Linked DNA regions of Homo sapiens: all the other regions are linked to region 2. Evidence: fine-mapped expression QTL. A gene starts in region 2. Each other region holds a variant in brackets. All regions are shown on one strand. Distances are between the middles of the regions.

What was found. PIP is the estimated chance that this variant, and not a neighbour inherited with it, causes the effect.
Region 1: its variant is the best candidate, but not a certain one, in a credible set for the expression of ASAP3 in whole blood (TOPMed, PIP 0.90).
Region 3: its variant is the best candidate, but not a certain one, in a credible set for the expression of ASAP3 in whole blood (INTERVAL, PIP 0.86).

The regions. Positions count from the first base shown.
Region 1 is chr1:23,433,179-23,443,401 of GRCh38, forward strand. It overlaps ASAP3 (ArfGAP with SH3 domain, ankyrin repeat and PH domain 3), which reads right to left. Exons shown (of 25, transcript NM_017707.4): 6 at 9,323-9,434; 7 at 9,008-9,093; 8 at 8,477-8,552; 9 at 8,209-8,295; 10 at 7,924-8,033; 11 at 5,983-6,052; 12 at 5,569-5,656; 13 at 4,246-4,294; 14 at 3,952-4,142; 15 at 3,733-3,866; 16 at 3,382-3,476; 17 at 2,673-2,850; 18 at 1,355-1,440; 19 at 1,076-1,191; 3 more. Among named protein-coding and RNA genes, the nearest start is that of TCEA3, 14 kb to the left of the region's middle. The variant T/A (reference allele first, on the strand shown) is at 5,292.
Region 2 is chr1:23,479,464-23,489,686 of GRCh38, forward strand. ASAP3 (ArfGAP with SH3 domain, ankyrin repeat and PH domain 3) reads right to left here and starts at 4,716. Exons shown (of 25, transcript NM_017707.4): 1 at 4,542-4,716. The coding sequence starts at 4,670. RefSeq lists silencers at 4,551-5,000, 5,121-5,230, 5,241-5,290 and an enhancer at 5,481-5,580.
Region 3 is chr1:23,456,793-23,467,015 of GRCh38, forward strand. All of the region lies in intron 1 of ASAP3 (ArfGAP with SH3 domain, ankyrin repeat and PH domain 3), which reads right to left. Among named protein-coding and RNA genes, the nearest start is that of ASAP3, 22 kb to the right of the region's middle. The variant C/G (reference allele first, on the strand shown) is at 6,413.

The DNA.
Region 1 (10,223 bases), 46 kb before region 2:
CTCCCAGGCTGGCGACAGTCTCATAGGTCTTGTTGCTGATGTCCAGCCTCCCACTGGCCCAGTGAGCCTGGGCCGGGAGCTTCAGCAAGCAGCGCTGCCAGAGCAAAAGATTGAGGATGAGGACAGCCTGGTTCCTCCGGTGTAGCCCTGTCCCCCCGCCTCACCGCCCCCGCCAACACACACCAGGCCCAATCTGGCTCTTTCCTTCTGCCATCCAGAGGCCTGAGGGACAGGGCTGGGACCCACCTTCTCTTCCTCATCCTCCTCACTGTCAGAGCCAGGCTCTGTGGAAATTACCCAGGAGTAGTCCACATGTAGAGGGAAGGCAAAGGTCCCCGCCTGGGCCTGCTCCAGCTGCCAAAAACAAAGGCTTGGTGGTTCAGAGGGTTGGGGGCTCAGCAGGGAGAGAGAAAGAGTCAGGGGCCCCTTGCCTCCCCGAGTCCTCACCAGCTCCTCACACTCCTTGTGGTGCTTCTTCCTGGCTATGTCCAGAGCTGTCTCGCCTGCTTCATTTACTGTGAGCGGGGAAAGTCAGGGTTCATGGTCATAGTCAAAGAAACATTACAGCTTAGAGATTAAGACGGGCCTCTGGAATCAGAATGTATGGGTTTGAATCCTGGCTCTGCCATTTTCTGGCTATGTGACCATAGGCAAGTTATATAACCTTTTGGGACAAAATTGTTTATGAAATGAGTATAATACTTGGAACTACCTGATGAAGTGGTTGTGAGGATTCAATTAATTAACATACAAAAAGCACTTGTCCCATTGCCAGGCATATGTTAAACAATACATATTAGCTATTACAATCATTATCATTCAGATCTAGCTAATATTTATTTGCCTAAGTACTCCCAGAAATATTATTTTCTTTTTTCTTTAGCAGTCCTGCTAGGTCAGTGGTATTATTCCCATTTTACAGATGAGGAAGCTGAAATTCAAGAGCTGAATGACAAACCCCTAAGATCACAGAGGTGGTCAGAAGCAAGCCAGGATTAGAGCCCGAGACCATCGGAAGTCCACATAAGGGGTAGTCAGGAATAGGAGTCTGACGGAGGAGGTATTCAAGCCCCACCTGTGCCAACCAAAGCTCTCCCCTTCAGCAGCAGCTTGAGGCAGTCGGGCTGGTTGTAGAGTGCTGCGTAGTGCAGAGCCGTGTTCCCGTCAGCAGCCTTGGCATCCAGGTGACCACTGGGGAGAGGAGGGTTCAGGGAGAAAGGAAGGGGAACAGATCAATGAGGGGATCAAAGTCAGGGGAAAAAGTGGGAGGGGAAAGGAGGGAAGAGAATGGGAGAAGAGGAAGGAAAGGAGAGGGAGTGTGAGGAGCCAGACAGACAGGCAGGGAGGCTCTCACCCGTTCTGGATGATGAAATCCACCAGAGGCAGGGAAGCCTGGTTGGCGACTTTGACAGCCAAATGCAAGACGAGTTCTTCAGGTGCCTGAAAACACATCCACACCTCTGAGATTCCCCCCCCAGTGCACCTGCCTCCAACCCAGTATTTCCCTCTTGAACTCTTGCTAACCCCTTATCCCCCCATAGGAAGCTGCCAGAACCCTGGAGAGATGAGACTGCAAGGGCAGAGCCTCATGTCTGGGAGGAAGGTGAAGGGCCATTCTCCCATTGTTCCCATTCACGGCTCTTCCTCCTCTGCCCCCAACAAGTGTTTCCCAAACTTCTTTCTCAGCTCTCGGCTCCTCTCCCTGATCGCACTTCCCCACCAAGACCTCAGCAACCTCACATTTTCAACTATCACACATGTGCAGGCTGTTCCAAATTCTTACCTCACCTAAGTGCTGCACTGCCCATTGGATAGCCCACCAAGATATCAGACAGACAGTTCAAAGATACCCGTTTTTAGTTTTTCTGAGACAGGGTCTCGCTTTGTCACCCAAGCTGGAGAGCAGTGGCGCAATCACAGCTCTCTGTAGCCTCAACCTCCTGGGCTCAAGCCACCCTCCCACCTCAGCCTTCTGAGTAGCTGGGACCACAGGTGTGTGCCACCATACCCAGCTAATTTTAGTTGTTGTTGTAGAGATGGGGGTTTCCTTATTTTGCCCAAGCTGATTCTGAACTCCTGGGCTCAAGTGATCCTTTCACTTTGGCCTCCCAAAGTGTTGGGATTACAGGCGTGAGCCACCACACCCAGCCAACATCCAATTTTTGATGTCGAATCAGTCAGCAACTCCTGTTGATTTACTTTTTCAAATGTCTCTGATATCCTTTCTCCATGCTCATGTGTTTGTTCTTGGAATAGCCAAAGCAATGTGGCCTTCCTGGCTCTAAACTGACATGCCCTTATATTTCAGGGCTATTTAGGTGAAAGAAAAAGATATTAACGTTTATTGCATGCCCATTGTACACTAAGCCCTTTATATACATGACTTCTCACTTCATCACCGTGGGTGCTATTATTAACCCCTTTTATAGATGAGGAAATGAGACTCAGAGAAGTAACCTGCCCTAGATCACACAGCTAGGAAAAAACAGAGCCAGGATTCCCACCCAGGTCTGCCTGACTGAAGCTGTGCTCTTTCCCACTTACCACTCTGATGGGTGAGATCTGAGCAGATGTCAGAGGTGGGGTGGAGGGGAGTAACAGCTGGTCCTGGAGAAGAACTGGGGAATATGTTAGACAGGTGGGTTATAAGTGGCCCTTGGAGGGGTTCTCACCTGTGCATCAGGCCCTGGCAGCGGCTGTCCAAAGTCCTGCCCATTGGCAAAGGCCTCCAGTACCGACAGGAGGTCCCTGTTGCAAATGGCTGTCCAGAGTCGCTGAGGCTCAGGTGTGCACCGGCGTGCAAACCTATGCTCCACATACTTGGCCATAATGTAGTCCCTGCGGGTGCCCCTACCAAAAACAACCACAGGATCTCAGAGCATGGACCGTGTCTGCCCAGCTGATCCCTGGGGCCCTCCCACAGGAGATACAGCTCTCTTTTTCTCCAGAACCATGTCCTGAAGACGTCTAGATCTGAGGCTCCCCTCTCCCCAGGCTTTTTTTTTAGACAGTCTCACTCTATTGCCCAGGAGGGAGTGCAGTGGCGCAATCTCGTTTCACTACAACCTCTGCTTCCAGGGTTCAAGCAATTCTAGTGCCTCAACCTCCTGAGTAGCTGGAATTACAGGCGTGTGCCACCACGCCCAGCTAATTCTTGTATTTTGAGTACAGGCGGGGTTTTGCCATCTTAGCCGGGCTGGTCTCAAATTCCTGACCTCAAGTGATCCGCCCGCCTTGGCCTCCCAAAGTGCTGGGATTACAGGCGTGAGCCACTGCGCCCAGCCTCCCCAGACTTCTGATCCAAGACTTTTCTACGACCCTGGACACTGCGGAGGCAGAATCCCCTAGGCAGGGTGCCCCTCTCTCTGAGAATCCCCTTACATGTCACTCTCAGCTGAGGGTTTAGGGCCGCCGTGTGAGGGTAGCTGGGCCTCCATGACCTCATTGAAGCTCGTGTTTCCCATGTTCAAGGCCAGCTGGAGTCGTAGGAAAATAGACGTGGGGCGGAGTAAGACCGGGCGGTTAAGCCTGCATAGGGTGGAGCTCCAAGCCCCCAGAGTCCCGCCCCTCGGCCGCCCTCCCGGTTCAGGCCCCGCCCCTGACCACCCGCTACCTGGCTTGTCCCAGCCCACCTCGGCCAGGTCCCACCCACAACCTGCAAGCCCCGCCCCCGGATGAAACTACACCCCTAACTCCGCTTCTGGCCCCTTCCAGGCCCCGCCCCGCCCTCACCAACAACTCGGAGGGGCCCAGCAGGTCCAAGGTGAGTGACTGCATGCGCGAAAAGCGCACGCCCAGTTCGCGGTGGACGCCCGAGCACTGGATGCAGGTGAGCACGCCCAGGTTGGTGCTGAGCCACGTGGGGTCTGCAGAGGAAAGCAGCTGGAGCCTGGAGGTGCAGCCCCTCCCCTCCACTTAAGCCTCCCTCCTGCCCCGGCCCCGGGGACCGACCTGCAGCCCCGCAGTCGCAGCACTGGCTATTCCCAGGCCTGCTCTTCACCTCCGCGATGAGCAGCTTTGTGAGGTCGTGCGGCTCCCCATCATGGCCGGCGGACCCCCAGGACCCCGGGCCAGCGCTGGGCTCCCCGAGGAAGGCGCTGCTCAGGGCTTCGTCCTTGCTGTTCTGCAACACTGACACCCACCTGCGGAGATTGAACGGGGTGGGATGGGGATGTCAAGTGGGAAGAGATAGGGCCGCCGGCCCCCACCCACAAGGCTGGCCGGGCTGGCCGAGGGGGCACTCACGCCTCACACTCGTGCTCGTCCTCTGCCTGAAAGTGGTACGTCCGGTTGTCTGTCGGGAGAGAAGGGGGCTTCTGACCCACAGAAATGCTGCTGGCCTTCCCGGAGCCCAGGGAGCCCCCACCAAAGCCGCTGGGGCCACATGGAGATGTGTCCCTGACAAGTCGGACTCTCAAGCTAGGAGTGGGAAGGGAGTGGAATGACAGTGGCCAGCACCAGGGGCAGTTTCTCAGAACTGGCCTCCGAAGTAGGATCCCAACAAAGCTCCCTCTGCGTGAAGCCCTGGTTCCAGGCTCAGACGAGGTCTCAAAGGGCTTGGAACCCCAGAGAACCCAGCTCTGAGGCAGGGCATCCTCTGAACCAACTGTCACCACCCCACTGGGCCCTTCCTGGTCTCCTCCTGGGCGACCAGGCCTCCTGTCTGGTCTCCCTGCTTCCCATTTCCCCTTTCCCCTAGCCTGTACCAGCTCCCAACTGTTGTGCCCAAGGCTCTGCTCTAATTACACCACTGCCCTGCCCCAAGATCTCCCATGGCTCTCTATTGCCAGGAAATAAGGTCCAAACTTTTAAGAGGGATTTCCAGGCCTCATCTCTCACTCTGCTACATGAACCCTCCACTCTGGCCAAACCGGCCAGACCCACTCTCCTGCTTCCATGCCTTTCATCATGCTAATCCTGTCTCCTCAAAAGCCCCCACCCCACAAACTCTTCATTCTACATGTCCTTCAAGGCTAAACTCAAATACTGTCTCCTCCAGGAGCCTTTCCTGATTCCCCACAGCAGTGCAGGCCTTCCTGCTCCCTAATCTTCTATGGGGCTATATCTGCACCCATCTTCTGGACAGCCCCCTCATCTTACAGTCCTGGGTACCCACCCCACACCCCTGCCAGAGAGTTTCCTGAGGACAAGATCTAGGTCTTTCTCAGCCTGTGTCTGCTCTCACACAAAGCCTGCACCAAAGGCTCTGAAGAACGAAAAGTAGAAAATGTAAAGAAACAATAATTTCATCTCCTTCAAGTCTGGGTATTTGGGAAAAAAAGGTAAAATTT[T/A]AAAAAAAGAAATAATTTCAAAACCCAGATGACCCAAATCCACTCAAATATGCTCTGTATAAATAGCCACATTTATTATGTAAAGTGGGTGCATTTTGACATTTAATGTGATGTGGGTATCCTAGACCTAAGGATTCTTATGTCTGCAGTAGCAGCAATTCGACACCATGTGTGGAACTGGACACAGACCCCTCACTGAAGCCCCCCGGGAGCTGACAGGTGTCTTAGAGAAGCCCTGAGCAGCTGTGGGTGGGGGAGAGGCACAGGGACCACTCACGGGTCACCAGGTCGAAGCACTTTTTCTCCTCAGGGTTTGGCCTCACTTGGCACGTCAGCAGGGTCAGCTTCACCGGGGGCCGGTTTATCTGTGGGAATTTAGGGGCGGAGGATGTATGCATTACCTCTGGCCCTCCACATTCTTTAGGCCTCCATTTCCCACTCTGTTAAATGGGCATAATCATCCTGTTCCATTTGTGTTTCTCCTCACCCAGCAGCACCTCAAGGATGTGAAGTGTAGACTAAGACTAGATTGGGGCCTTCAGGTCCCATCTGTCCTCCCAAACGGGTCTCCAGCTCCCTGGACCTAGGTTTGGGGGCCAGTCTTAGAGGGAGGGCTTGACATTATTTGCTCAGAACACCAGAAGAAGAGGGTCCATCGTGCCCTGAGACTCCCACCACCTCTAGGCCTCACCGTGCTGTGTGAGATGGTCAGGCAGCCATACTTGACTCCACACTTCCTTTTCTGCCAGACTCTTCGAATTCTAAAGCCCAGAGGGATAGAAGGACAGTGACCCAAGGCTCACACCTAGTTCGCAGGTGTCAGAGAACAGAAATTTGCCCCCACCTGTATGATCTCTAGCCACATCCCTTTACCTCTTTCTTCTCCTAACCCTACACCCCCACCCCTGACCCCTGACTCTCTGGGGCTCCCTTCTGATGGAGGAGACACAGTTCTGCTCTTAGGAAGATGCCAGTCTGATGGAGAAACACAGCCTCACTCCCTGGGAATCCTTATTCTAAGGGGATGATGTGACTTTGGCCCTCTGAGAGCTCCCAGTCTGATGGGGGAGACATAGCTTATATCATTAGGGAGCTCCTAGTCTGAGAGGCACAGGCTCTTGACAACAACAAATAAATTGTGGTTCAACTAAGCAAGATCAATATTAATATCCCCAAAATAAAATTAGCAAGTCCATGATCCAAAACTCCGTAACACTTCTCCTGTAACAGGTAAATATTCATTGGTTTCTTCTTCAAAGTTATTCTTCTCCGATTAAACTGATTGGTAGGTAGAAACATGAATATATCCCACAAGGGCCTTTGCATTTCACAGCAGTTTTGTTTTTTTGTTTTGTTTTGTTTTGAGACAGGATCTTTCTCTGTCACCCAGGCTGGAATACAGTGGCACGATCTCGGCTCATTGCAATCCCTGCCTCCCAGGTTCAAGCAATTCTCATGCCTCAGCCTCCCAAGCAGCTGGGACTACAGGCTCACGCCACCATACCCAGCTAATTTTTTGTATTTTTAGTAGAGATGGGGTTTCACTATGTTGGCTGGGCTGGTCTTGAACTCCTGGCCTCAAGTGATCTGCCTGCCTTGGCCTCCCAAAGTGCTGGGATTACAGGTGTGAGCCACTGCACCTGGCCCACAGACTGATTTTTTTTTTTTTTTTTACACTAGGAAGCAAGGCACAGCCAATACTTTCATTTCTAGGCATATTCAGTATATTGCAGAGATTAATTAGGGCATAGGCTGGGCGCAGTGGCTCACGCCTGTAATCCCAGCACTTTGGGAGGCTGAGGCTGGCAGATCACAAGGTCAGAAGATTGAGACCATCCTGGCTAACACGGTGAAACCCCGTCTCTACTAAAAATACAAAAAATTAGCTGGGCGTAGTGGCGGGCACCTGTAGTCCCAGCTACTCGGGAGGCTGAGGCAGGAGAATCGCTTGAACCCAGGAGGCGGAGGTTGCAGTGAGCTGAGATCACGTCACTGCACTCCAGCCTGGGTGACGGAGGGAGACTCCATCTCAAAAAAAAAAAAAAAAAAAAAAAAAAAAAAGAATGAGGGCATAGTAAGTGTTGCAATAAGTGTTAGCTACTGCCAGCCGGGCGCGGTGGCTCATGCCTGTAATCCCAGCACTTTGGGAGGCTGAGGCGGGCGGATCACAAGGTCAGGAGATCGAGACCATCCTGGCTAACATAGTGAAACCCCGTCTCTACTAAAAATACAAAAAAATTAGCCGAGTGTGGTGGCGAGTGCCTGTAGTCCCAGCTACTCGGGAGGCTGAGGCAGGAGAATGACATGACCCGGAAGGCGGAGCTTACAGTGAGCCGAGATCATGGCACTGCACTCCAGCCTGGGCGACAGAGTGAGACTCTATCTCAAAAAAAAAAAAAAAAAAAAGTGTTAGCTACTGCTATTCTTCTTCTTTAACTTAAAATAACCAGTCACCTTTAGCAGAAGTTCACATGCCCAGGTGTCCTGGACAACCCAGGAATTGAGGATTTTACATTGCAACCCTCGGTGTCTACACAAATGATTAGAACAGTTCCTTTGGGCAGCTTCCCCAACCCTGTCATTTACTTGCAGTGTGACATTGGGCAAATTATGTAAGCTCTGAATCACTTACCCGTCACTTTTCTTGTATAGAAAGCCCACTTTCTCCGTCCCAAACTGCTTGTTGCCTTGGTGCTGGTGGATGCTATAGCCACATCCTGAGTTCTTCCGGCTCAGGTGTTCCTGTCCCTCGGACATGCAAAGGAGACCTCAGGGCATCTCAGTGGGAAGAGCCCCATTCTGCGGGGGCTCACTCAGGGAGACTTCTCCAGGGGACCCTGTGGGTCTTCCTTCTCTCCCTCCCTCCACGGTGGGCCTTGGGGGAGGGCATTCCTTTTGGGATAGTTCAGGGGCTGACCTCTCTGCTCTCAAGCTGCAGTGTCCCTCGGAGGGAGTCCCGGAGCTGGGTCAGCTTCTGTAGCTCGTCCTCCTGGGCCTGATGGAGCTATGGGACAGAGGATGGGATCCCATCACCAGCCAACAAATATGTCAGGCACAGAGCCCAGACCCAGAAGAGCAGAGCAGTAGCCTCACTCTGTGGGCAGAAGCCAGCTCTTCCACACCCACAGATTTTCCTGGAAGGACAGGGGGCTTGATCACGTGCCCAAGGGTGAGACCCAACTTACTGCATGTACTGAGGCCGCCAGCTTCTCGATGAAGGGGAACAGGCTCTGGGCAGCCTTCCAGCCATCTTGGAAAAAGCTAAGAGGTGTCAGAGGCCAAACAAGGGTCCAGATAAAGATGGAAATGAGAGATGAAGCCAGAAGTGTGGGAGAAGCTGCCGTAAGGATCACAGGGCACCTCAGGGAATTGTAGTCTGACGGTCAAGAACAGACACTCCATAGACAAGAGTCTCTCTTGACTAGGTTCAAATCCCACTTACTAGCTATGTAATCTTGGAAAATAAGCCTCAGTTTTCTCATCTATAAAATGGGGATAATAGAGTACCTGCTCCCAGAAGTGTTGGGGAATTGAGCGAATTGATGTTTGTAAAGTACTCATGCCTGACACCCGGTGAGCACTCAATGAGGAACTATGAAAGTTCTGCCAAAAAGATGCAGGCCTCCAAAGAGACTCTCAGGTCTATCACACCTTGAGAGGGGCCTTGTTCTGTGACACTGGAAGGGTTAGTGGCAGGGACGCGGGAAGATACCTACTTGTGCTGGGCGTGGAAGAACTTGATGAGGCTCTGAAGGAAGTCAGGACCTTGCTTCATCTGGCTCTCCCCGGCTTTGAGCAGATACTAGGAGGAGGGCAGGGCAAGATACGTGATGTGAGCTGAAGCAGAATCCTGGGAACGAGGGGCTGCAGTCCCCATCCCAGGCTAATCCTCCTGGCTGCGACTGGGCCTTGGTGACATCCCACAGGGCCATGTGGCCAGGACCTGAGCTGAGGCTGTGACTGGTCCCCTGGAGAGGCAGACAGGAAGACACATCCCACGCCCCCCCTCCCTCATCCAGAGCACCCCTTACCTCACACATGTGCAGCTGGAAGATGCGCCGCTCTCTCTGCATGTCCTGGGCCACCTCCCCAGGGATCCCTCCTGTCACCCTGGCCCGATCGCGCTCCTTCTCCAGCTTGGCCCTAGACCCCAAGGAAAGAGAAGCCTGAACAAGTCTCACCAGCCCCTATATCCTCTTCTGCCAAGGATGCATGAGCAAAGGGGCCACATGGTGCAGGAGGCCCTCCTGTGCCAGCTGTGTGGTGGGGCTGGGTACAATGAACAAGACAGTTTAGGGAATCCACAGAGTGGTGGGGGAGAAAGACATGAATCAAATCACAGCCACGCAGAGAACTATGGGAGAGAAAATGGGGATCCAACCTCGTTGGGGCTAGTTGGGAAGTGATGTCTGAGCTGGGATCTGAAGCCTGAGAAGCTTGGAGGAAGCTACTGCTGGGCAAGAGGGATGGACCATGTGATGGCCCCAAGGCAGGAGCGAGTGCCAAGATGGAGAGGGCTGGTGCCAGCTAAGGTAAGGAGGTGCCAGACCATGCAGGGTCTAATTCACACCATGTTAATATATTCTTGGTCTTTATCCCAAGAGTAATGGGAAGGATTTGAAGGTGTTTATTCAGGGGGATGAAGGACTCAAACAAGGGCCAAGTGAGATTTGGGGCAAACAGTTCTGATTTTCCTGGAAAGGATTTAAGAACACAGGTGCCTTCAATCTTTTTTATTTGTATTAATTTTATAGATTCAGGGGGTACAAGTGCAGTTTTGTTTCGTGGATATACTGTGCAGTGGTGAAGCCTGGGCTTTTAGAGTACCCATCACCCGAATAGTGTACATGGTACCCAATAGGTAATTTTTCATCTCTCACCTATCCTCCCACCTTTTGAAGTCTCCAATGTCTACTATTCTGCTCTGTCTGT
Region 2 (10,223 bases):
AACAAATTTCCCTCCAACAGAAACAAGCTTGACAGGGTTTATGTTTCTTGCAAACAATCTCTAAGATTACACAATTTTTACACTAAAATACATTTTACAAAGCAAACTGTAAAATTCACAAGAATATTAAAAATTAAGAAGGAAATCCTTTCTAAAACAAGATTCAAAAAAGCAAAAGTCACAAAGGAAAAGAAAAATGTAACTCCAAAACAATTTAAACTGTGCATTATAAGACCTGATACCAATTTAGGTAAACATTCCCCCAGCCACTCCCATTCCCCCACTGATAATATATTTTCCATGAGGAGATACATTGGGAAGCATGTACATTTCCATAGCAATTACCTCTGGGGAGAATACAGGGATTGAGATAGTTGTTCATAGGCCTTTTCTGTTATGTTTTAAATTACTTATTACAAATTATGCCCTGGCCGAGCATAGTGGCTCACGCCTGTAATCCTAACATTTTTGGAGGCTGAGGTGGGCAGATCACTTGAGCCCAGGAGTTCAAGACCAGCCGGGCAACATAGTGAAACCCCAACCCTACAAAAAATACAAAAATTAAGCCGGCGCCAGTAATCCTAGCTACTCAGGAGGCTGAGGTGGGAAAATCACCTGAGCCCAGGAGGTTGAGGCTGTGGTGAGCCATGATTGTGCCACTGTACTCTAGCCTGGGTGACAGAGTGAGACCCTGTCTCAAAAAATAAAATAATAATAAATTATGCCACTTGTCCAATTAAAACTTTCTTTTAAAATTTCAAAAATATATACAAAACAAGCCTTTGAAGATCTCCTATTTGTGGCAGACTGCTTCATCTGAGACCTACTGGAGGGGGTGTGTCCACTAGCAGTTTGAGGCACACAATATAGTATGAATTCTTAGCTCTGGTCAAAATGGCTTACTTGGTTCCCAATATGCTCTCTTCCCACCAGTCTCTGAATTCACTCCCTTGTCCTCTCCGATAAATGGGGTTCATCTATCCTTCCACCTGGAAGTGTCACCTCCTCCAGGAACTTCTCCCTCATTGCACCAGTCCTTACTGCTCTCTCCCTCTCCTGCTCCACTTGCCTCTTATGGCATTGACTGTACCTTTCTCTGGGGACTCAGGACAAACTCCTGGGGTTCTTACTGATCTCCCTGTAACAGGCTACTTCTCCCTAGTCAGTCAGCAAATCAAAGTAGCATCTTTATGTCCTTAGTGTCCTTTATGTCCATAGAGATGGCACAGAGAGCTGGACAGAGCCCAGGCAGAGCACAGCAGAGTCAGAGAGACCCACTGTGTGACACAGGGCAGCTGCCTCCACTGCCCTAGGCCCGGTTTCACCTGTTGTTGTGAATATCAATGAGATGATGGGCATAAAGGGGCCCAAGACAGGAAGAGGCTGGTTGACGTAATGACTATCTTAATATACTCCCTCACATTTGCATGGTGCTTCATAATTGAACACAAAAAACTTTAACAACCCAGTAAGGTAAGCAGGGAGTGATTAAGAGATCCATTTTAAGGATAAAATAACAAGGTTCAGAGAAGTTACGTAGGGAGGACAGACAGATGGACTTTAAAAGGAAAGAGAACAGGACCGGGGGTAGAACACGTGGGTAGAAATGCTAACTTTCCCACTATCCAGCCGCAGGAGCTTGGCCAAGTCTCTTGGCCTCTCTGGACATCAGTTACTCCATCTTATCTGAGAGAGTTTCTAGCTGGTCTCTATCTTAAAAGGGTCCCTCAGCCCTGACATTCTAGTTTCCTGTGATCTGCCCAGGGTCCTTCCCAGCAGGACTGTACAAAAGGGCTGCGAGTCCCAGGACAGGGTCCCTAGTTACTCCCAGGAAACCAGTCAGAACTGGAAGACTTGACTTAAGAATCAGTTGCATTTTGATTCAGTCAAATAGAGCTACAAGCCTGGGGGTGGGTTAGTCAAGCCCAGAACTGGGGGAAAAAATTGCAGCATCAAACTATATGTAAACACAATATAATCGCAAAATATAAATGCAAATGCAAAACCAAACAGGAAACCTCAGGGAAGTCTAATCCAAAGTTCAGACTCTAACTTTTTGGGCCCTGAGATGCTGAAGAGAAAAGCTGTGTTTGGGTGCCGCAAGCCTTTCTGTTGTAACAATGAACCTCTACGTGCACCAAACCAAAAATCTGAAGGCAAAGGAGGATGGGTTTTGTCTTGCCTGAACTGGGGCAAAGCTGAGCCCTGAACAGAGCCTGCTGTGGCCTCCAGACCCATTCTAAGGGTCCCTCCCCCAACACACAGTGCTTACACTTACACAGCCAGGCAAGGCCAGATGTATGGGCATAAATGGGCATTTCTGTCCATGGATAAGGTTCATATTGGAGCCCCTTCTCCTGCTCTAAGATTCTAATGAACAACCTGGGGAGGAGGATGAACCATGAAATCCCTAAGAATGTGGATGGCACTGAGCTATTCTGGGTCATGAAATGTGAGGCTATGAAGACAAATCTCAGGAAGCTCTCCAAAGGATGGGCTGGACAGCAGTGTTTCCCTGTGAGCCCCACAGTAAAATATAACCCACATCCACAGGCAGTGGACTCTGCCCAAGGAAGGAAGCCAAATCTGACCGGCTGCTTCTTATTTTAATAAAACATGTACCCCTACTATGTGCAAAGTAGTAGGCTAGGCTCCGTGAGACAAATGAGACAAGGTGAGGCTCTGTGAGACAAATGAAGACAAAAGAGACCCAATCACTGTCTAAAGAGATCTGCCGATTAATCTGACGATAATCATTCCATTTATCAAGAGGCATGGGCCAGTGCAGCGGCTCACACCTATAATCCTAGTACTTTGAGAGGCCAAGGCGGATAGACTGCCTGAGCTCAGGAGTTCAAGAACAGCCTGACCAACATGGTGAAACCCTGTCTCTACTAAAAATACAAATATTAGCCGGGTGTGGTGGAGCATGCCTGTAATTCCAGCTGCTTGGGAGGCTGAGGAATGAGAATTGCTTGAACCCGGGAGGCAGAGATTGCAGTCAGCTGAGATCGCACCACTGTACTCCAGCCTGGGAGACAGAGCAAGACTCTGTCTCCAAAAAAAAGATGCATGCTTTATATGCATTGTCTCATGTGAGGTACACATTATTACCCCCATTCCACAGATGACAGGACAGGTCACATGCCCACGTTCACCCAAATGGCAAACTGCAGAGCCAGCGTTTGAAAAAAGGTCTGCCTTGGCCGGCGCGGTGGCTCACGCCTGTAATCCCAGCACTTTGGGAGGCCGAGACGGGCGGATCATGAGGTCAGGAGATCGAGACCATCCTGGCTAACACGGTGAAACCCCGTCTCTACTAAAAATACAAAAAAAAAATTAGCCAGGCGTAGTGGCGGGAGCCTGTAGTCCCAGCTACTCGGGAGGCTGAGGCAGGAGAATGGTGTGAACCTGGGAGGCGGAGTTTGCATTGAGCCAAGATCGCGTCACTGCACTCCAGCCTGGGCGACACAGCGAGACTCCGTCTCAAAAAAAAAAAAGGAAAGAAAAAAGGTCTGCCTTCCCCAAAGTCGATGCTCCTTCCACAATCCTCTATCACCCTTACAAAGTGATACAAACAGACTCCGAGATGGAGGGTCACCCTGACAAGAGAGAAGAGGACAGATTTCCTGACACTGGCGCAGGGTGTTATGAACTACTGAGCTTTGTATCTGCCACGCAGTGGGTGCCTAGTACACTTAAGGTGAAGGGTGGAAGGCTAGAGCCGTTGCTGAGGTCCAAAATGCCACCCAAATTGAGGGCATCCTTTGGATGGGGAGCTGCAAAAACACATTATTCTCCGTTGGACCAAGGCCACGGGGTGTCTGTCCTAGAATATTCTTTGCAGAGGAGCTGCGGAAAGCTGCAGCAGGTTCAGAGAAGAGGAATGGAAGGAACTCCGAAGAGCATGGGAATGGGGTGGGGCAGCCTGCAAGACCGAAAGAAAAGGCCTGGGACGCTTTGCTGGGAAAGACAAAGAGGAGAGGGGAGGGGAGAGGAGACGATAAACTTGCCAACAGCCCGGCCAAGGTGAACCCCGGCTCCTGGCGCCTTCCCATCCGCATTCATTCCACAAACGCGGGCCAAATCTCCGAACCAGCCGCAAGCGGGAGGGGGCCTCTCTGCAGCCGGGGGGAAGAAAGTTCAGGACTGAGGCGGGAAGCCTGCCTCTCAGAAGGGGAGTGACTCGGGGGGCACACTTGTGGGGCTCCGAAGATGAAAACGCAAACTGAGGCTGGAAGGCGCTAGGCAAACACATATGTGATGAGGCGGTCACGCGGGGCACTTGGGGTACGTCCCCCGACCTGTGGAGTTTGTCATCGAAGAGACCTCGAGGCCCCCCAAAACGGTCCCTCGGGCCTTCCCCCGCCTCGACGGTGAGGACGCAGCTGTTGGAGATGCGCTCGGTCCTCCCAGACCTAGGGAGGGGGCAGGTTTCGGGGCGCGGTGAAGGGCCATCGCAGCTCGGGTGCGACACGCCTGTGGAGGTCAAGGCCAGGCCCGGCGCCGACCCCCGACCCCTCCCGCCTCGGCCCCCTCACCTCCTCCCGCGCCAGCGCCGCCCCTCGGTACCGGGGCATCTTGGCGGCGAAGGCGGCGGCCCCAGCCGGGGAGCTGAGGTCCTCCGCGGTGACGGCCAGGAACTCGGCGACGCTGAACTGCTCCGGCATGGCGGGCGCGAGCGTGGAGCTGCCGGAGCGGGGCGCGGGGGGCACTGAGCTGCTCCGCGCTGAGCCGGCCTCACCGCCGGCCGGGGGCGCCGTCCCGGCCTCCACACGCCCCGCCCCTCCGCACGCCCCGCCCCCGACCCTCCAGCCGCTCTCCGCTCCTCAGCTGGGACGGCCCCGCCCCCGGCTCCTCGCCTTCCTCCACCGCCAAGGTCCAGGCTCCGGCCCCGGTCCCGGCCCCGCACCGCGTCAGGCCGCTTCCCCGGCCCCTCGCCGGCCCCCTAGGCCACGCCCCCAGCCCCTCACCGCCTCAGACCCCGCCCCCTGGCGCGATGCCCCACCCCTGGCCTCAGTAGAAACTCCTCCGCCTTCCCCCATCCCTGCCCCTTCAGGGCTCTGTCCCGTTTCATCCCGCTCTGGGTCTTCCAAATCCTCCTCCCTTGCACGGCCCAGGCTGTTCCATCTCCGCGTCGAGTCTTAGAGCCCCCTCCCTCTTCCTCCCTCCTCTGCTGATTCGTTCCGAGTTCCCCATGACCTCGCCCCTTCTGCCCTACCACCCCCCCGCCACCCTTCCCTCCTCTCTCCCCAGTCCCGCCCAATCTCCTTGCCTCGCTCCGCCCCGAATCGCCCCACCCCTCCTTTGCTGCGTACGCCCAGCTCTCAGCCTCAGCTTTGCAGGCATCCGGAGACTCCCTCCTGATAACCCCCGCCGCCCCGGGGATGTGTGGATCGGGGCCCCTGGCTAGCTGTGTGACTTGGGGAAAATTACTTCTCTTCTGGAACCTCAGTTTCCTTATCTGTACAATGGGAAGCCTGATGCCCGCTTGATTGTGATGTTGCGAAGAACCGAACACGTGCGTGTACTAGTTCCCTCTTACCCGACCATAGATCGCACCCACGCCTTTACTCTTCCTGCTCCTGCCTTTCACCCCTTAATCTGGCTCACCATCCTTTGGGGCGGATGAGGGATGGGGTTCAGGATAGAAATCCACTTAGGTTTAGTTCTGAAGCCTGAGGTCCTCTGGGGAAAAGTTCTCCAAGTAAAAAGCTAGGAAAGCACCGCAGCAAGGAACATTGGTTTTGGAGTCAGAGGAACCTAGATTCCAATCTTGGTTACTTTGGATAAATTGCTTGCTTCTCTAAGCCTGCATTTCCCCCTCTTAAAATGGCCTCATGGTATTTTACCCCACAGGGCGGCGATTGAGAGAATCTTTTCTTTTCTCGCACAGAAAAGAAAAGAAAAGAAAAAATCCGGAAAGATATGCACTAAAATGTTGCACCAGCAACATTTTATGCACTAGCTGAAGACAGATATGCACTAGCTGAAGACATTATGAGTAACTTTCTTTTCTTTTGGTGAATCTGTATATCCTAACTTTTATACAATGACCATATACTACTGTGTAATAGAATTAAAAGTTGACGGGAGCGATGGCTCATGCCTGTAATCTTAGCACTTTGGGAAGCCGAGGTGAGCGGATTGTTCAGGAGTTCAAGGCCAACCTGAGCAACATGGCGAAACCTTGTCTCTACAAAATATACAAAAATTAGCCCGGCGTGGTGGCTCTTGCCTGTAGTCCCAGCTACTTGGTGGGCTGAGGCAGGAAAATGGCTTAAACCTGGGAGGTCAAGTTTGCAGTGAGCTGAGATCCTGCCATTGCACTCCAGCCTGGGTGACAAAGTGAGACCCTGTCTCAAAAAAAAAAAAAAAGAAAAAGAAAAAGAAAAGAAAGAAAAAAGAATTAAAAGTTGAAAAAAATGTGTACCATCTGATAGAGACGACAACTATTCCAAGAGTTCTTTCAAGGTCAACTTCTCCTGTTGAAACCAAATAGGCACTTTTCTTGTTATTTATTTTTAGAGACAAGGTCTCACTCTGTCGCCCAGGCTGAAGTGCAGTGCAATGATCATAGCTCAAGGCAGCCTCAAACTCCTGAGCTTAGGCACTTTTCTTGCTTGACTTTTAGGAGCATCTGACAATGTTAACCACTCCCTTCTCCTTGAAACACCCTTGCCCCTGAATCCTAGGAGAACTATTTTCTTTGGTGGCCCTCTCCCTCTGGCTGTTCCAAGAGCCCTTTCTGAGATGCACTTCCTCCGCAGGGATCTTAAATGCTGGAGTTGTTGGGAGCTCTCTGCTAAATCCTCTGCATGTCTCACTCTATCAGCCTTCCTGGATTTCTTCATCCAATCCCAACGGTAATGTTGATGTCTTCTGTACTAGTTTCCTGTTGCTACTATAACAAATCACCAATAACTTCCCTCAGCCTCCCGAGTAGCTGGGATTACAGGCACGTGCCACCACACCCAGCTAATTTTTGTATTTTTTAGTAGAGACGGGGTTTCGCCGTGTTGGCCAGGCTGGTCTTGAACTTCTGACCTCAGGTGATCCGCCCACCTCGGCCTCCCAGAGTGCTGGGATTACAGGCATGAGCCACTGCGCCTGGCCACATTTATTCTTTTACATGTCTGGAGGTCACAAGTCTGCAATAACTTTCACTGGGCTAAAATCAAGGTATCAGTGGGGCTGTACTTCCTCTGGATGCTATAAGGGAGCATCTGTTTTCTTGCTTTTGCAGCTTCGAGAGCTGTAGTTTTTGCATTCTTTGGCTTATGGCACCTTCCACCTTCAAGGGCAGCAGCATCTTCAAGCATCTTACTTGCCTTCTTCCCTGTGATCAAATTTCTCCCAGCCTCCCCACCCCTCTTCTTTTTGTTTTTTTTTTGTTTTTTTTGAGACGGAGTTTCACTCTTGTTGCCCAGGCTGAAGTGCAATGGTGCGATCTCAGCTCACCACAACCTCCGCCTCCCGGGTTCCAGCGATTCTCCTGCCTCAGCCTCCAGAGTAGCTGGGATTACAGGCATGCGCCACTATGCCCGGCTAATTTTGTATGTTTAGTAGAGATGGGGTTTCTCAATGTTGGTCCTCGAACTCCTGACCTTAGGAGATCCACCCGCGTCGGCCTCCGAAAGTTCTGGGATTACAGGCATGAGCCACGGCGCCCGGCCCCCTCTTTTTTTTTTTTTTTTTTTTTTTTTTTGAGGCAGGGTCTCATTCTGTCACTCCAAGCAGTGGAGTGATCACAGCTCCCTGAAGTCTCAACCTCCTGGGCTTTTGCGATCCTCCCACCTCAGCCTCCCAAGTAGCTGGGACTGCAGGTGCATGACACCACGCCCAGCTAGTTCAACCTCTCTCTTTTTTTTTTTTTTTTTTTTGAGACGTGATGCCTCTCTGTCGCCCAGGCTGGAGTGCAGTGGTGTGATCTCAGCTCACTGCAACCTCTGCTTCACAGGTTCAAGGGATTTTTGTGCCTCAGCCTCCTGAGTAGCTAGAATTACAGGCCCATGCCACCACACCCAGCTAATTTTTTATTTTTATTTTTTATTTACTTATATTTTTATTTTTTGTATTTTTAGTACAGACAGGGTTTCATCATGTTGGCCAGACTGGTCTCCAACTCCTGACCTCAAGTGGTCCACCCACCTGGACCTCTCAAAGTGCTCAGCCTCCCTCTTATAAGGACATTTGTGATTACATTTAGGGCCTATCCAGATAATCCAGGATAATCTCCCCATCTCAAAATCCTTAATTTAATCACACCTGCAAAATCTCTTTTGCTATATAAGTGCCATTTACAGGTTCCATGGATTAGGACCTGGATATCTTTGGGAGCCATTACTGAGCCAATCACATCTTCCAAGGCTGTATTTCCAGCCTGGACTCTTCTCTAGTTCAAGATCTATGTATCCAGCCACCTATGAGACAGTTTCATTTCACTGGCTCACAGACAGACACCTTAAACTCTACAGGTCCAAAACTGAACTCACCATCTCGTACGCCCACTCCTTGCACCAGATTGTTTTCTGTCCCTGTCTTGATGGAAGGCATTACCATGCACCCCCTCGGAGTCATCCTCTCCTCCCTTCTTCTACCAACCTCCCCTCAAACAAGTCTTGTCACTAGTCTCACCAGTGAGACCACCTTCTCCATCTGCAGGCCAACCCCAGTCCAGACCACTGCCACCTCTCACTTCCTCGCTGGTCTCCCTGCCCCTAATCTTGCATATCTGTTCTGTTGCTCCTCTACTTAGAACTCTTCAGTGCCCCCCGCATTGCTCTCTGAATAAAAGCCAAACTTGTTTTCATGGATGTCTAGCCCTGCATGGTCTTGCTGCTCCTGCCATTCACAGGCTGATCTCTTGCCTCTCTGTCCCCACTGTGATTGAGCCCCTTCACTGTTCTCCCCTCCGTCTGTAATGCTCTCCCACGTCCTTTCAGCAGGCCAACTTAGATGTCAATTCCTCCAAGAACCCTTCCTTGATGTACTTACTCTGGACTCCTACGGGATCCAGTATCTCCCACCACAGCAATTACCACTGTGGACTGTAATAATCAGTTTTCTGGTCTGGGGCTCTGGCCCACCTATTTATTTATTTATTTATTTACTACGTACTAGTCACAGGGCCAAGGGCTATACAAGCAATAGCTCACTCAATACCCACTCAATACTCACAGCAACCCTATGAGGTAGGTGACGTTATGCTTCCCATCTCACTGAAATTAAAGCTTAGAGAGATTAATTTGTATAAAGTCAGAATGAACAAGTAATATAACCAGGATTCCAACCCAGGTCTGCAAGACTTTAAAGCCTTCTTTGTTTTGTTTTATTGTTATTATTTTGAGACAGGGTCTCACTTTGTCACCCGGGCTGGAGTGCAGTGGCATGATCATGGCTCACTATAGTCTAAACCTCCTGGGCTCAAGGGATCCTCCCATCTCATCCTCCCAAGTACCTGGGACCACAGATGTGTGCCACCACACTGGGCTAACTTTTAATTTTTATTTATTTATTTATTTATTTTTGAGATGGAGTCTTGCTCTGTCACCCAGGCTGGAGTGCAGTGGCTCAATCTCGGCTCACTGCAAGCTCCGCCTCCCGGGTTCACAGCATTCTCCTGCCTCAGCCTCCCAAGTTGCTGGGACTACAGGTGCCCACCACCATGCCCAGCTAATTTTTTGTATTTTTAGTAGAGATGGGGTTTCACCCTGTTAGCCAGGATGGTCTCGATCTCCCTCCCGATCTCGTGATCCGCCCGCCTTGGCCTCCCAAAGTGCTGGGATTACAGGCGTGAGCCACCGCGCCTGCCACTTTTAATTTTTATATGGAGGTCGGGGGGCAGGGGTCTCACTTTGCCCAGGCTGGTCTCGAACTCTTGAGCTCAAGTGATCCTCCCTCCTCAGCCTCCCAAAGTGCTGGAATTATAGGTCTAAGCCACTGAGCCTGGCCATTCTCTCTCTCTCTCTTTTTAAGTAAAATAACTTTTTGTTTTTACTTAAATATGTGAACAATTCAATTACAGTGAAATTTTTTCTGAACCTCCAGGTTTAGGGTAATCTTTAAGTAATCTATAGGTATTTGATATTATGTCATGCCCGACTATGTTTATATTGGATCAAAATAGAGAAGGAGAGAAAACTGTAAGGATTCCAAGTGTTTGATATACCTAATGCAAATACTGTACTTTCAGTGCCATAATTTTTAAAATAGAACCTCTC
Region 3 (10,223 bases), 23 kb before region 2:
GAGCAGAGAGGGGTTGGAGGCATTCAGTTACCTGAGTCTGGGGAGATGGCAGAGGGTGGCGGGAGCACACTCCATCACCACTGGGGAGAACTGGAGAGACAACACCAGATAACCCCAAAGCCCAGAGGCTGCAGAACAAACATCAGAATGTGGGAAAGGCCAGAGATGTGATGGCAAGAAGCAAGTCTCACATGCCCCAAGCAGGCTCAGCCTAGATGGGAAACACTCCCCCTTTCAGTGGGGCATGGAAGTTGACAACCTCATGAAATCCTTGCGAAATGCACAGTTAACTTGGAAAACACAGAATGTCGAGCTGGAAGGGGCCCACAGATGAGAAAACTGAAGCCAAGAGATGGGAGGCCCTTACCGAGAGACACATGGTGGGGAAGCCACAGAGCTGGACTTCCCGGGTGCAACAGAACAGTGTTCCATCCATGTACCACAGCCCCACCCTGACCCCAGCCCAGCTGTTCTTCCCAGTGACAAAAATAAAATGGGATCAGAGTCTGATTTCCAGAGTTACATGACAAGAGTTAGTAAACACATTGGAAATGGTACTGCCAAAGATTCAAAATGATACCCACAGGAGAACATGCATAGGGCAGAACTCAGAGGCAATGTGGAGTGTTCTCAGAGGCCGGTGGCATGTGGGAAGCCTCTGGAGGAAGGGGGGTCTAGTTACGAAGCTCAGCTCCACTACTCGGGGGCTATGTGACCTTGAACAAGTTGCCTATTTTTTTTGAGACCAAGTTTTGCTCTTGTTGCTCAGGCTGGAGTGCAGTTGCACAATCTTGGCTCACTGCAACCTCTGCCTGCCAGGTTCAAGCAATTCTCCTGCCTCAGCCTTCTGACTAGCTGGGATTACAGGTGCCCACCACCTGGCTAATTTTTTGTATTTTTAGTAGAGACGGGGTTTCATTGTGTTGGCCAGGTTGGTCTCAAACTCCTGACCTCAAGTGATCCACCCGCTTCGGCCTCCCAAGGTGCTGCGATTACAGGCATGAGCCACCGTGCCCGGGCACAAGTTGCCTATTCTTTCTGAGCTTCCTGATTAGCCATGTGTAAAATGGGGAAATCGATGCCTACCTCTCAGGGTTGGTATGAGGGCTATATGTATGAGAGGATGCAAATACAGGATTTAGCTTGGTGCTAGGCATGGAGTATGTTCAAAATGAACAGCACCTGTGATCGTTATCATCAGCTGCTGCTGATGCTAGGAAGGTCTGCCAAGTTCCAGGTGCTTTTCCTACAGGGGCTAGAAATCTAACATTCTCCTCCTCGGGTGTGAACTTGAGACACTTTCATATTTGAGATCCGTGGAGGCCCATCCCAGGGCTGAAGAAAGAAAACAAAAGAATCAGGAAGATTAAGGAGACGGCATCATATTTGAGTTGGTTAAAACATGAGGCTGGGCATGGTGGCTCATGCCTATAATCCCAGCACTTTGGGAGGCAGAAACAGGAGGATCACTTGAGGCCAGGAGTTCAAGACCAGCCTAGGCAATATAGTGAGACCTTGTCTCTACCGAAAAGAAAAAATAAATAAATTAGCTGGGTGTGGTGGGGTGCACCTGTAATTCCAGCACTTGGGGAGGCCAAAGCAGGAGGATCACTTGAGCCAAGGAGTTCAAGACCAGCCTGGACAGCTTGGCGAAACCCCATCTCCATGTGGTGGCATGCACCTATAGTCCCAGCTACTTGGGAGGCTGAGGTGGGAGGATCACCTGAGCCTGGGGAGGTCAAAACTGCAGTGAGCCCTGATTGCGCCACTGCACTCCAGCATGGGTGACAGAGAGAGCCCTGTCTCAAAAAGCAAAGCAAACAAACAAAAAACAACCAAAATGTTTCTTACTAAAGAGACAAAGAGGTGGAGGGGAGAACGTTTCTTTCTAAACTGGCCAACAGAAAAAGAAAAAAAAAAAGAGGCAAGAACATGGCCACTTCTATGGTTCCCCAAAATCCAGATGGGGAAACAGAAGCATGTGTTTACCAAATCCCTTGATCCCCATCTTGAAACCTGGAAAGCTAAAAGGTGAGTAATTTAAGGAGCTATGATTTCGCTCTAAAAGACAATTCAGGTTAAAGATATGAACAACTGGGCCAGCACAGTGGCTCACGCCTGTAATCCTAGCACTCTGGGAGGCCAAGGCAGTGGATCACCTGAGGTCAGGAGTTCAAGACCAGCCTGACCAACATGGCGAAACACTGTCTCTACTAAAAATACAAAAATTAGCTGGGCGTGGTGGTGCACACCTGTAATCCCAGCTACTCAGGAGGCTGAGGAAGGAGAATCTCTTGAACCCGAGAGGTGGAGGTTGCAGTGAGCTGAGATGGTACCACTGCACTCCAGCCTGCACAATGGGAGCGAGACTCCATCTCAAAAAAAAAAAAAAAAAAAAAAGATATGAACAATTTCCAAAAAAATTTCCAAAATCCCTAGAGGGCAGATCCATGTACCTAGCACACAGAAGGTGCCCAATAAATGTTTACCTAAATGAATGATGGTTTGCAAAGTCCTGGGACATGGACCTGAGAGGAGTATGTTCATGCTCTAGATACATTCTGAGGAGTCTTCCCATCCCATGACACCCATTTTCTGAAAACTGCCCTCCCTTCCTCTGGAGGTGGGCCCCTGCAGCCTTGTTTGTTCTAGCCAGAGTCGACAGACACCTGGTTCAAGCTAAACCAATCAGATTCTCTCTCCCACCTGACCCAAGCTGGACCAATCAGATTCTCTCTCCAAGGACTTTGGAATTGGGCTCTGGAAAGCTAGTTGACTGACTGAAATGCTAAAGCTGGGATGTCCTTCCTGCCACATGCAGAGAGAAAAGAACAGAGCAGATGTGTAGAAAGACATGAACAAGCCCCACACCGCCACAGCAAGGCAGAAGAGGAAGAGTGGTGCTGGTTTCTGGCAACTTTCCAGATGCTACCTCTTCAGAGGCAACCTCCACACATTATGTCTTTGGTGAAATTCCATGAAATACCCCTGAATCCACCCAACGAAGTTCCTTTAAGCAAGTTTGAGAAGATTTCCCTTCCCTGCAGTGTGGCAGAGATCACTGGGTGGCTCCCAGTGTCCATTCTCTCTTCTTCCTTCACAAGAAACCTGACTTTTCAGATGGCCACTTGGCGACCTAGAATAAAGACTACATTTCCTACCTTGCAGCTAACTGTGGTCATGGGACTAAGTCCTGGCCATGGAATATAATATTTTAATTGTTAACTTCCAAAAAGTATCTTACAAAGAAGGGAGATAACCCCCAAACTCATCAAGTTGTATACACTGACTATGTATAGCTTTTTACATGTCAATCCTACCTCAATAAAGTGGCTTTAAAAAATTGAAAAATAAAAAGGAAGGGAGGGACTACACACCTGTTAGAATGGCCAAAATCCAAAACACTGACAACACCAAATACTGGCAAAGGGAGGCCGGGCACGGTGGTTCACGCCTATAATCCCAGCACTTTGGGAGGCTGAGGCTGGTGGATCACTTGAGGCCAGGAGTTCAAGACCAGCCTGGCAAACATGGTGAAACCCTGTCTCTACTAAAAATACAAAAATTAGCCAGGCGTGGTGGCACACCGCTGTAGTCCCAGCTACTCGGGAGGCTAAGGCAGGAGAATCATTTGAACCTAGGAGGCGGAGGTTGCAGTGAGCTGAGACAGTGCCACTGCACTCCAGCCCAGGTGACAGAGTGAGACTCCATCTCAAAAAAAAAAAAAAAAAAAACCAAACAAAAACACACACACACACAAATAAATAAATAAATAACCCCAAAACACAAATACTGACAAAGATGTGGAGCAACAGAAACTCCCATTGTTGGTGGGAATGCAAAATGGTACAGCCACTTCGGAAGACAGTTTGACAGTTTCTTAACTAAACGTACTCTTGCCAAATGAGTCAGCAATCATACTCCTTCATATTTTCTCAATGAGTTGAAAACGTATACATACCTGCACACGGATGTTTACATCAGCTTTATTCATAATTACCAAAATTTGGAAACAACCAAGATGTCCTTCAGTAGGTGAATGGATAAAGAAATTGTCATGCATCCAGAGAGTGAAATATTATTCATCACTGAAAAGAAATGAGCTATCAAACCATGAAAAGATGCAGAGGAAAGTTACATGCACATCACTAAGTGAAAGAAGCCAATTTGAAAAGGCTACTACATGATTTCAACTATACGATATTCTGGAAAAGGCAAAACTATGGAGACAGTAAAAAGATCAGTGGTGGCCAGGGATGGGGGTAGTGAGGAGGAACAGGTGAAGCACAGAGGGTTTTTAGGGCAGGGAAACATTTCTGTATGATGCTATAATGGTGGATACATGGAATTATACACTTGTCCAATCCCACAGAATGTACAACACTAAGAGTGAACCCTAATGTAAACTATGGACTTTTGGTGATGATGTGTCAATGTATGGTCATTGAAACAAATGTACCACTCTGGTAAGAGCTGTTGACAGAGGGGGAGGCTGTGTGTATATGGTAACTCTATGTACTTCCTGCCCAATTTTGCTGTGAACCTAAAACTGCTCTAAAAAATAAAGTCGATTTTTTTTAATTTAGAAAAAAAGGGCCTGGGGTGGGGTGGCTCACGGCTGTAATCTCACACTTTGGGAAGCTGGGGCGGGAGGATTGCTTGAGCCTAGTTCGAGGCCAGCCTGGGCAACATAGTGAGAGTCTGTCTCTACAAAAAATTAAAAACCAGGCATGGGGCATGGGCCTATAATTCCAGCTACTCAGGAGGCTGAGGTGGGAGGACTGTTTGACCCCAGGGAGTTGAGGCTATAGTGAGCTGTGATCGTGCCACTGCACTCCAGCCTGGGCAACAGAGCAAGACCCTGTCTCAAACGCACCCCCCCACAAAAAAAAAAAACAAAAGAAAAAAGGGGAATGCAAGGGTACCCTCTGTCACCCCTTTCTTCTGGCTACAATGTGCTGGCGATGTCTAGAGCTCAGGCAGCAATCCTGGACCATGAAGTAGAAGCCATTTGTTATGGATGGCGGAGCAACAAGATATCAGCCTTGTCCCTAGTGATTAGGAAACTACCCTAGCAGCCCCAGTCTACTTATCTGTGGAATTCTTTAATATGAAAGAGAAATCTCTTATTTGAGCCACTGTTATACTGGGTATTCTGCCACTTGTGGCTGAAACTAGCTCTAACTGGTAAAGGGAGACAAGTCACCCGAATCACTCACAGACTGTTTTTCTTTTCTTTTTTTTTTTTTGAGATGGAGTCTCGCTTTGTAGCCCAGGCTGGAGTGCAGTGGCACAATCTCGGCTCACTGCAAGCTCTGCCTCCCGGGTTCACGCCATTCTCCTGACTCAGCCTCCCGAGTAGCTGGGACTATAGGCGCCCGCCACCACGCCCGGCTAATTTTTTGTATTTTTTAGTAGAGACGGGGTTTCACCGTGTTAGCCAGGATGGTCTCGATCTCCTGACCTCATGATCCGCCTGCCTCGGCCTCCCAAAGTGCTGGGATTACAGGCGTGAGCCACCGCGCCCGGCCACAAACTGTTTTTCGATGCCCTTGTCAGACATCTATCAGGAAACAGCTTCCCAGCCAGATACCATTCCCGTCCCTACTGCTCTTGGCAGCCAAGTTCACATGGCTGTTTATTCATTCAATTAGTTATTGAGTGCCCACTACACCCTGTGTAAAAAAGACACAATCTCAGCCGGGCACAGTGGCTCACACCTGTAATCCCAGCACTTTGGGAGGCTGAGGCTGGCAGATCACGAAGTCAAGATCGAGACCATCCTGGCTAACACGTCTCTACTAAAAATACAAAAAATTAGCCGGGCATGGTGGCATGTGCCTGTAGTCCCAGCTACTAGGGAGGCGGAGGCAGGAGAATCGCTTGAACCTGGGAGGCGGAGGCTGCAGTGAGCTGAGATCACGCCATTGCACCCCAGCCAGGAGGGCAGTGTGAGACTCCGTCTCAAAAAACAAACAAAAAAGACACAATCTCAGCTCTCAAGGACATCATCATTGAAGGGAAGAAAAAGCCATTATAAGCAGACACTTATCATGCAATGTGATGAGGGCTATGATGGAAGGTTCCTGGGAGTCCAGGGAAAACAGAGCCATGTCTGCTTTGAAGGAATGGGGAAGGCGTCCCTTAAGCTGTGTTGCTTAACTCTGGCCCCTGGACAGGCAGAAAAGAGACTAAAGAGACTACACTATGAGGTAGAGGGGAGGGAATGCTTGGTAAAAAATGGTAGGACTGCCAGGAAGGGAGGCGTGCTCTGGGAAGAATGGACAAGGACAGGAACATAGTTCCTCCATTCATTCATTCATTTCAACAAGCATTTCTTGGTGACTGTTTCAGCCAGGCATGGTGCCAGATGGTGGGGACACATAAGACATGGCCCCTTCCTTCAAGAGAA[C/G]CACAGACTTAAGAACATGCAAGTGCCCATAGGGAGCATGAAAAGGGAAAAGTTCTAATTACTCCTTTCTCAAGAAAATATCTGAAAATCATTTACACTGGTTGATAACACCTATCCTGTGGTATAATAGGGCTCAAAGATTTAAGCTAAAGAAATGCAGGTTTTTTTTTTTAATCCACTCATCCACACACTCATAAAAAAATTTAGTTTTAAGGAGACGATTCTGATAGTAGCCTGGGGAAAGGAAGGTATTTTGAGGAAAGGCAGAGGTTTCCAGAGTGCTATGATGAGTCAGTAACTAAGATTCTAGCCCCAGCATCTCCAAAATTATCTCCTTGGGTGATACTAGCCCAGCTAGTTTTCTAAACTTCCTCTCCTTTAAAATAGATTTTTATTTTTTTATTTTTTTATTTTTGAGATGGAATCTCGCCCTGTTGCCCAGCCTGGAGTGCAATGGCACAATCTCGGCTCACTGCAACCTCCGTCTCCCAGGTTCAAATGATTCTCCTGCCTCAGCCTCCCGAGTAGCTAGGATTACAGGTGCCCGCCACCATGCCTGGCTAATTTTTATCTTTAGTAGAGACGGGGTTTCACCATGTTGGCCAGGCTGGTCTCAAACTCCTGACCTCGTGATCCGCCTGCCTCGGCCTCCCAAAGTGCTGGGATTACAGGCAGAAAAATCCATTCTCTGCTTAACTCACAGAATTACTGTGAGGCTTAATGAGATCACAAACATGGCAAGGCTTGAGGCATTTGGAAAACATGAGTATGGTTCTTACTGTGGTTTGTTTTCTGCCTCTGTGTGAGATCAGCCCTCGTTTCCCATGAAACTGGATAGATGAAGGAAAAGCCAGGTGTGGCGGCTCCCTCCTATCATCCCAGCACTTTGGGAGGCCAAGGTGAGAGGATCGCTTGAGCCCAGGAGTTCAAGACCAGCCTCGGCAACAAAGTGAGACCCCCACCCCGATCTATACCAAAAAAAAAAAAAATTTTTTTTTTTGAGACACAGTCTCTCTCTGTTGCCCAGGTTGGAGTGCAGTGGTGTGATCTCGGCTCACTGCAACCTCCACTTCCCAGGTTCAATCGATTCTCCTGCCTCAGGCTCCTAAGTAGTTGGGACTACAGGTGCCCGCCACCATGCCCGGCTAATTTTTGTATTTTTAGTAGAGATGGGGTTTCGCCATGTTGGCCAAGCTGGTTTCAAACTCCTGACCTCAACTGATCCTCCTGTCTTGGCCTCCCAAAGTGCTGGGATTACAGGCATGAGGCACTGCACCCGACCATTACAAAAAATTTTTTAAAAAAGTTAGCCAAGTGCTGTGACACACACCTGTAGTCCCAGCTATTTGGGAGGCTGGGATGAGAGGAGCCCTTGAGCCCAGGAGTTCGAGGTTGCAGTAAGCTATAATCATGCCACTGCACTCCAGCCTGAGTGACAGAATGAGACACTGTCTTAAAAAAAAAAAAAAAAAAAAAAAAAAAAAAAAAAATCAGCTTCTGGGTTCAGGTGGGCCCATTTAATCCCTGATAGTCAGAGATTCTCAAGGTGGGGGCCCTCAACCAGCAGCAGGCATCATCCAGGAACTTGTTAGAAAAGCAAATTCTCCAGCTGAATCAGAAAATCTGGGGGTGAGGTCCAGCAATCTGTGGTTTAACAAGCCCTCCAGGTGATTCTAATGCATGCTAAAGTTTGGGAATTACTGTTCTAATTCTCTTCAGAGATGCAGTACATCATCATTGCTAAAAGTATGGGGCTGTCCCCAAACTACCTGGATTTGAATTCCAGCTCCACCAGGTACCTGATGTGATCTCTCAGTCCCTCAATTTCCCCATTCATAAAATGAAGATGATAATATTGCGTACCACATAAGGTTACTGGGGAGATTAAGTAAATTCTATAGGTAAAGTGCTTAGAATACTGTCCACTATTTGATAACTAAAAATGTTATCTACTTCAAAATTAAATTGAATTTGGTTTAGGAATTTCTCAACTTTCATTGAATTAATTAAACATATCTCCCCACACCCCCAACTCCATGTTGATCCTCGTCAGCAAGCTGTGGGGAAGCACAGGTGGAGAGGGACCACAGCAGACCTCTGCCGCCGGGCAGGGAGAGTGCAAGCAGCATGTCCCAAGTGCCTGCTCTGTGCAGCCTCATTACTTGTCACTATCCTGGCCACTCTTTGAGGAAGGCATTGCCATTCCCATTTTAAAGATGAAGCTGTCAGGAGGAGGAACATGTCCAAGTCACACAGTGATGAACAGTGGCAGAGCTGTAACTTTTTTTCTTTTTTTTCTTTCTTTTTTTTTGGGGGGGGGATAGACTCTCACTCTCGCCCAGGCTAGAGTGCAGACACACAATCTCAGCTCACTGCCACCTCTGCCTCCTGGGTTCAAGCGATCCTCCTGCCTCAGCCTCCTGAGTAGCTGGGTTTACAGGCGTGTGCCACCATGCCCAGCTAATTTTTGTATTTTTAGTAGAGACAGGGTTTCGCCATCTTGACCAGGCTGGTCTCGAACTCCCGACCTCAGATGATCTGCCCACCTCGGCCTCCCAAAGTGCTGGGATTACAGACATGAGCCACTGCACCTGGCCCAGAGTTACAATTTAAATCCAGGACTAGCCAAATCCAGGGCCAATGTTCTTTCCCCATCTCTAAGCTGCCCCACAAAGTTAGGGGGCACAGCTTATTTGATCTTGGGACTGGATCTGCCTCCAAACCTAAATCCCAATTCTACCACCTCTACCATATTCCCTCACCATCCCCTCAGGCTTAGGAAAGGGAGAAGGCAGGGCACAGAGGGAGATCTGTCCAAGGAAAACAAGGTTGACAGCAATGGTGAGGCCCCGAATACAAACACTGTAAAGGATGTCCTACTGAAAAGAAAACGGATTTGTTCAGGCTGGCCTCAGAGAGGATTCCCAGGACTGAGAGGTGGAAGTTAGGGAGGCAGAAACAGACTTCAGCTCAAACAGGGGACATTTCTAAGGAAGAACAGGCCACCCCTGAAGGCAGTGAGCTCCCTGTCACTTGAAGTATTCAAATACTTTAGGTGCTAGAGAGTGATTCAGACACTGGATTTTGGATTAGAATGGACAGCTATTTAGATTTCATTCAAAGCTAAGAGTCAATGGATCCATGCAAGAGCCTGGCAGGCACTGGGCAAAGGTGGCTGAAACACATCTTAGTGTAAGAGACACGTCTGAGCTTGGAAAGCCCACTGGAGTCCTTTGGGCAGCCTACCCTGGCTGGCCCTAAACAAGGCCTAAATTCCAGCTGCTGGCACTGCCCTTTGTGTCCCCTACCCTGATCCCAACATACACACACACCATGCTCTGGCTCTCTGGTTTGTGTTCTCTGCAGGCAAAAGACCACAGATGGCAGCACTAGGCCATGCCCAGCTGCCCTGCCTAGAAGGGCCTTCTGCATGCCCCCTTCTGGGTCAGGATTCATCAATAGGACCCATTCTTCATTCCCATGGTTTCTCAGAGCCAGCTGTGGTTACCAAGGCAACTCAAGCCAAGGGGGCAGAGCTGCTAGAGCTAAGGCCTTGGGAGATACAGATTACATTTCACCATTAGACATTCATTCCTTTGGACCATTATAATATAGTACATAGTTATCACTTCTGTGTCATCCCATGACCATTACAGCCATTATTATTATTATTATTATTTTGAGATGAAATCTCGCTCTGTAGCCCAGGCTGGAGTGCAGTGGTGTGATCTCAGTTCACCGCAACCTCCGCCTCCCAGGTTCAAGCAATTATCCTGCCTCAGCCTCCAGAGTAGCTGGGATTACAGGCATG